2 linked regions of the Homo sapiens genome follow. The protein of the gene in region 1 purifies or fractionates together with the protein of each later gene. This does not show direct contact. Each region holds a gene or a part of one and is shown in the gene's direction. Other genes may lie near its edges.

What was found.
Region 2: the proteins of CHD7 (region 1) and SOX10 purify together in Homo sapiens (affinity purification with western blotting; one study listed by BioGRID). This does not show direct contact.

The regions. Positions count from the first base shown.
Region 1 is NC_000008.11:60,737,740-60,741,239, forward strand, and holds part of CHD7 (chromodomain-helicase-DNA-binding protein 7), read left to right. Parts: intron 1-3,500. UniProt on the Homo sapiens protein: ATP-dependent chromatin-remodeling factor, slides nucleosomes along DNA; nucleosome sliding requires ATP. Probable transcription regulator. May be involved in the in 45S precursor rRNA production.
Region 2 is NC_000022.11:37,974,556-37,978,055, reverse strand, and holds part of SOX10 (transcription factor SOX-10), read left to right. Parts: coding exon 1-189; intron 190-3,500. UniProt on the Homo sapiens protein: Transcription factor that plays a central role in developing and mature glia.

The DNA.
Region 1 (3,500 bases):
TCTCACATTTAGTTAGACTATTCCTCATCAGAAGTTACCGAGGAGTATTTTGTAAAATGGCAACCTATATTTTTAATAACATAAGCCCTGAATCTTAGTTCTTATTTAAGAGATGCATCATTTACAGATATATAAGCTCCATGAGGACAAGAGGGAATTTTGTTTTATTCACAGATCTCTCTCCAGCTCTTAGACTAGTGCCTGGATCATAGTAGGTGCTCAGTAAATACATTTTGAATAAATAATTGTGATTTGAGAGTTAATTTTTATGTAACACCAAATAAAACATAAATGCAACTTGAATGTTTATTACCCAGGTGATAATTATGAGACTTTAAAAAATTTCATTGCTAATTTGTTATTTCTGTTTCTTCTTTTTAAATACTTTATGCTGTCCAGTATGGAAGCCACAGCCCCATATGTCCATTTTTTCACTTGAAATGTAGCTAATAGGAATTGAGATGTACTGTAAGTGTAAATTACATACTGGGTTTCAAAGACTCAATACCAAAATACGTAAACTAGCTTATTCATTTTTTTATATTGATTACCTGTTGAAATGACAGTATTATGCATTTATTGGTTTAAATAGAAATTGGTAAAATGGATTTCACTCTTTTGGTCTACTATTAAAATGTAGCTACTAGAAAACTAAAAATTACATGTAATAGCTCGCATTTGTGGCCCATTGAACAGTGTTCATCTAGACACAGAAAATCTAGATATTGAGTGTAGACGAGAGGGAAGCTTTCAAAATAGGGCTTTGAATGAATATCTTTTATAGAAACACAAAATTATACAATGCAGCTGCGACTTGGGAAAGTGGGCATTCAGATGGTCTTGATCAAATTTAAAAAAAGGACCAAAACAAATTAATTAGATTATCTCAAATCAGAAATATGAAATGCAGCTACCAGATGGATTCCTGGCATAGTTGCCAGCTGGGTCTTGAGGTCAGAAAAGGGGCAGGAAGGCGTTGGTGGCTGTCCCAGTGAGCGGTCACTAATGGCAGACTGCAAAGCCAGTTTTTGAACTTCTCTGCCTGGACCTTACCTGAGCATGGTTGTAGTTGTGCCGAGCGACATGCTTAGTTGATACCATATAATGCTGGCGTTTTTCAAGCGTCTGGGAGATGGACACTTAGTAGAAGGGCGTAGGGAACAGGAAGAGGAGCACAGCCAAGGATCAGTATGGGTACTCTCAGGCAGGGCTGTTTTTCCCTACTCATGCGCATAGGCAACTTGTCCCTCTTCTGAATCTTAAGCTGATAAAAAGTTAGCACCAACTTCATCGCCACTTCTCCAAGCTTGATCTGACTCTGCCTCTGCCTCTGAGCTCAGTGGGCTTGCAAGAGAAGGTCACCAGTGGGCTAAGCCATCCACTCCCTCTGGGCTCACTTTTACCTGGAGCTGGCCTGGAGCCCCATCGAGTCAGTAGCATTTCTTCCCATAACAGTTGGCGGACCCTGGAGGATGAAGCTGCTCCCCAGGACACATATGTAGACGTTACTTTCCTTAAGCTAATTTGAAAGGTTATTTTGGTAAGTGGTTGGGCTGCATGGCTGGTTTAAGCTATTATCAAGTCCATTCCAGTATTTATTTCTTTGAAAGTTAGAATGAGCCTTGAATAAATGATGACTGACTGCTTAGCCTTCTTAGGAGTGTATTTAAGAATATTTGTTGCAACTGGCACTGGAGATGTCTACTTCTCTTTATTTTGGATTTTAAAATAGTTGTATAGTAAAGCAGCGTGTTTTCAGTAAAATAGCTTTCATGCTCACCTTATTTTCACCCATCTGACCTCTGTATTTGGAGAAAGTAGATCAGAAAATTCATGGCAGTTAGCGGCAGAGTGAAGAGACCTTTGACTTTAGTTGACAGCTGTCACCTGAAAACTACAGGCCTGGAGACCCTCTCAGGTGTTATGTCTGTAGTTCTGACAGTGAACAGGAATGTTGTTTACATTTTCTGTAAGCAAAATTCTCCCCTTGTTAGGAATGTGTTAGAATACGGCAGGCAGAAACAGAATTTTTATGTGTCTTACTGGTAAGTTCTCAGGAGTGTTGGTTAGCCCATTGTTCATTCCCATGCTCTTATGGAAGGGTGTCAGTAGAATTTATGACTGAGCCTGTTTTTATCATCACTTTGGAAATTCTTCAACAAGATATTGTTTTTTTCAAGTGAGCTAGTATCACACAATGCTTAATGTCCTTATAAAAGAGAAAAAAATGAGTTAAATTCCAAAGATGTTTAAGATTTCAGTCATTTTCTCTATATGAATTAGGTCTTTATTAGGCCGTTGATTTAATTAGTGTTCAACAAAAACACTTTCCTGTTTAGATTGTCAACGCATTCTTTAAATTAGTTATTTTAATCTGACACAGGATCTGTTAGGAAGAGTTTGAATAAGATGCAGCATGTTACATAGTGTACACAGTGCGCTGGAAGCACGTAGGGTGCGAACACAAGTGCCTGCCAACTTGTCTCCCTTCCTGCTTAGGTCCTGCCTTGTCCCAAAAGGACTTAAGGCAATGGTGAGGAGAGCATATTTTGAACTTTATTCTGTAAAAATAATTTTCAGTTTTGGAGAAAGTTGTATTTCTAGTTATGAGAATAGTTGGTGTCCACAAAGTATCCACTCAACTAGTTTTCTCTGAGTGGTCACGTGGGATTCTGGTCCACCAGAGCCCAGCATGCCTGCGGGTGAATAATGAGCCTGGTGATTGGGCTGCTCTGTGTCAGTGCAGACTGGGACCATGGTAGGCTCAGAGCCATGAGTGAAATTGGTCGTCTTGGACAATGAAAGCTTTTCTTTTAGTTTCTTTCTGAATCTTGTATATTTCTGCCATTAAACATAATGAAATTATGAATTTATTGTACTGTTCTCAAGGTTGCTTTTCAACATCATTATGAACACTTTCTTGTTAGATGCCTCTGTTGCAGTTACATAGTTGTATGTGGGCTGTAAATATCTAATTTGTATGAAATGACCGATTTTGGTATTTGTATAATCCTCTAGTCAATTTAACTAACTTGAGCTTTTCACAGCCCTTGGTGCTGCTGTTGCTCATCTGATTACACCGCTCAGGGGAATAAGGTTAAGGGCGGGCTGTTGGTAACCAGAGCATTTCCAGGGCTTTAGTTCAGCAGATGAGCTGCTTGGCTATATTCATACATCTGCTTGCCTGCTGTGGCAGCTGCTGCTGCTTCACGTTGTGTTCTTTTGTTCTGTTTCATCCAAGAATGGAACGCTAGGAAGTGTAGTGAATGGATTAATTTAAGGTTAAGGTTAGTGTTTTGCTTGCTTTCTAAGTAACCGATCATAATGATGCTTCTGGTAGAAGCTAATGAGTTTCTCTTAAAGTGAACTAAATTTATAAAATACAGCTCAGCGAGGGAGCTAGATTCGTATTGTTGATGGGGACCAAATTCAGATGTACAAAATACTGGCAGTTTTTATCATTGGATCCTAATTCTTTGTTTTCTTCCTTCTTCTCCCCC
Region 2 (3,500 bases), on another chromosome or scaffold:
ACTACAAGTACCAGCCCAGGCGGCGGAAGAACGGGAAGGCCGCCCAGGGCGAGGCGGAGTGCCCCGGTGGGGAGGCCGAGCAAGGTGGGACCGCCGCCATCCAGGCCCACTACAAGAGCGCCCACTTGGACCACCGGCACCCAGGAGAGGGCTCCCCCATGTCAGATGGGAACCCCGAGCACCCCTCAGGTGAGTGCTGATGACAGAGCTGAGGGTGGGGCAAGGCCAGTCAGTGGAGACAGGAGATGGCTGGATGGCAATGAGACCCTGGACTCTAGGGAGAGCGTGCCAGGCTGTGCAGTTGCCCCAGCAGAGCTGCAGGGGCCCAGAGGGAGCTCCATGGGGGTTCCGGTGCCAGGGGAAGTGGCTGGGTGAGATGGCTCTGGCCAGGGCTGATCCTACTGGGCAAAGAGGGCCAGTTAAAGACTGTGGAGGCCGCCGGGTGTGGTGGCTCACACCTGTAATCCCAGCACTTTGGGAGGCCGAGGAGGGCAGATCACGAGGTCAGGAGATCGAGACCATCCTGGCTAACATGGTGAAATCCCATCTCTACTAAAAATAAAAAAAATTAGCTGGGCGTGGTGGCGAGCACCTGTAGTCCCAGCTACTCAGGAGGCTGAGGCAGGAGGATGGCGTGAACCCAGGAGGCGGAGCTTGCAGTGAGCCGGGATCGCGCCACTGCACTCCAGCCTGGGCGACAGAGCGAGACTCTGTCTCAAAGAGAAAGAAAAAAAAAAAGACTCTGTGGAGGTCATGGAGTGAGAGGTGGCTGGGGCAGTTACAAGTAAAGGGGGAGAAGACAGGATGGTTTTGAGAAATGGAAGAGCAAATGGAGGAGAGGAAATCACTGCCTCTTTCCCACCAGCCATTCTTTTTTTTTTTTTTCTGGAGACAGAGTCTCACTCTGTCGCCCAGGCTAGACTGCAGTGGCATGATCTCGGTGCACTGCAACCTTTTCCTCCCGGGTTCAAGCAATTCTCCTGTCTCAGCCTCCCAAGTAGCTGGGACTACAGGTGCACACCGCCACGTCTGGCTCATTTTGTGTATTTTAGCAGAGACAGGGTTTCACTATATTGCCCAGGCCCAGTCTCAAACTCCTGAGCTCAGGCAATCTGCCCGCCTCGGCCTCCCAAATCCCACCAGCCATTCTGACAGAGGAGACATGGCATGTGATACCGTGTCTGGCCATGGATGGGCCAGACATAAGCTATCTTGTTTAATTTTCATTAATGATAATAACAGCTAACCTTAATTGAGCAGCTACTCTGTTCCAGGCACTGTGCTAGGTGCTAGTTGCCTTATGTATACTAACTCAATCCTTGCAAACAATGTGATGAGGTACCCAAACTGCCTGGGCTCAGATCTCAGCTGTGGCAAGTTACTCTCATTTTACTGATGAGAAACAAACAGGAACTTCCCCAGTTTGGCTCCCGGGCATCTGCTTGGCACCACAGCTGCCTTGCCTGTGTTCCTAATGTACAGAAAGTGACACACACAGGTCTGCCACATGGGAAGTGCTCAGTGAGCAGAGCTCTGCCTTCAGAGGACACGCTCTGAGTCCTACTTTGTGTCAAACACTGGAGTGGACACCAGGGGTACTAACCAGAGAAGCCTACAGTCCCTGGCCTCAGGGGCCCATAGTCTAGAGAGAGGAGCAGGGATGAAAACGAGTGAATTAAGTACAGGAAGAAACAAAGCTAGGCATGGTGGAATGCGCCCGCAGTCCCAGCTACACAGGAGGCTGAGGTGGGAGGATCACCTGAGCCCATGAGTTTGAGACCAGCATGGGCAATGTAGTAAGACTCTGTCTTTTTTTTGTTTTTGTTTTTGTTTGAGATGGAGTCTTGCTCTGTTGCCCAGGCTGCAGTGCAGCGGTGCCATCTTGGTTCACTGCAACGTCTGCCTCCTGGGTTTAAGCGATTCTTGTGCCTCAGCCTCCTAAGTAGCTGGGATTACAGATGCACGCCACCACACCCAGCTAATTATTGTATTTTTAGTAGAGATGGTTTTTCACCGTGTTGGCCAGGCTGGTCTCGAATTCCTGACCTCAGCCTCCCAAAGTGCTGGGATTACAGGCATGACCCAGCACGCCCAGCCTCCTATCTCTTACTATATATATAGTATATATATAGAGAGAGAAACAAGTGCACAAGAAGTCTGTGTGAGATCCAGAGGTGGCATGGCCGTCTATCCCATCCAGTCAGGTCTCCAAGAACACCCCACTGCCCACCAGACTCTTGTCAAGGAAGGCTTCCAGAAAGAGGCAATGCCTGGGCTGCTTGGTACAATCTCTATTTTACTGATAAGGAAACTAGTTAAGAGAAGACTGGGGATTTGTCCAGACACAGAACCAGGATTCAAAAGCCTAGGCAGGTCTCTTGAAGTACAGAGCCCTTGGCCAATGCAGGACTTGGCGCTGCCTCTGGTCTGATGAAGGAGGCACAGGCCTGTCCTTGGGGAGCTCCTAGTCTCTTAAGACCATGGACATGTTCTGTCTCCATTGGGATGCCAGGCAGTCATCCCTCCCACACACGTGTACATACTCTTCACCTTCAAAGATTCAGGGACACACACACACACATCAGGAGACCCTGGACCACATACAGAGCAACCACCTCAGAATGAAACTGGACACAGACTTTTTCTCACCCTTCAAGGCCCCACCCCACTCAGACATCCTTCCCTGATCAAACCTTCCCCAAATCCCTGAGGCAGCGGGTGGACTCCTCCTCTGGTCTCCCAAGTCCTTGCATATTGTCACCACAGCACTTCCAACTCTGGGTGCATGTGGATCTATGGATCTATGACTAGACTATGAGCTTTTGGGAACAGGGATCCATTTTATTTACATTAGTATCCCCAGCACCTGGCACAGTACCTGGCATTTTGTAATGCTCCCTAAGAGTTTGCTAAATTAATATGTGAATAGGAAAGTGAACAGACAAAGGAACAAGGACCAGTTTTCTAAGTGCCCTCCCATGGAGGAAGGCAGCTCAAAGAACAACAGGGCAACACAGGCCAGCGTATGACGGGGCTAAGGGCTTGCCAGTGGGCTGGGAAGCAGGGTGGGCTCAGGAGGAGGGAAGGGTTGGAAAGGACACAACATGAGGCCAGGACAGGGAGCAGGCCCAGGCAACCAGCAAAGGTGAAACAGAGCACTCAGGAGCCTGGGCGAGCGAGGCTCAGCAAGGAAGACAGTAGGCATGGGTGTGGAAGCGGGGCTGGCAGAGCGCAAAGGCTGGGCCAGACCACCTGGACAGCAGAGAAGCTGATGAGAGGAAGAACTTTCCACAGGAAAGGTTTTTTCAGAATGAGGCAGGCCTCCCCAGGACCCATCCCTAAGATTTGAGAATTTCATAAACAACTAGAGATCAATCTAAGACACCAGTATTTAAACAAATGCTGTGGGGCGCAGTGGCTCATGATGGTAATCCCAGCACTTTGGGAGGCCGAGGCAGGTGGATCACCTGAGGTCAGGAGTTCAAGACAACCCTGGCCAA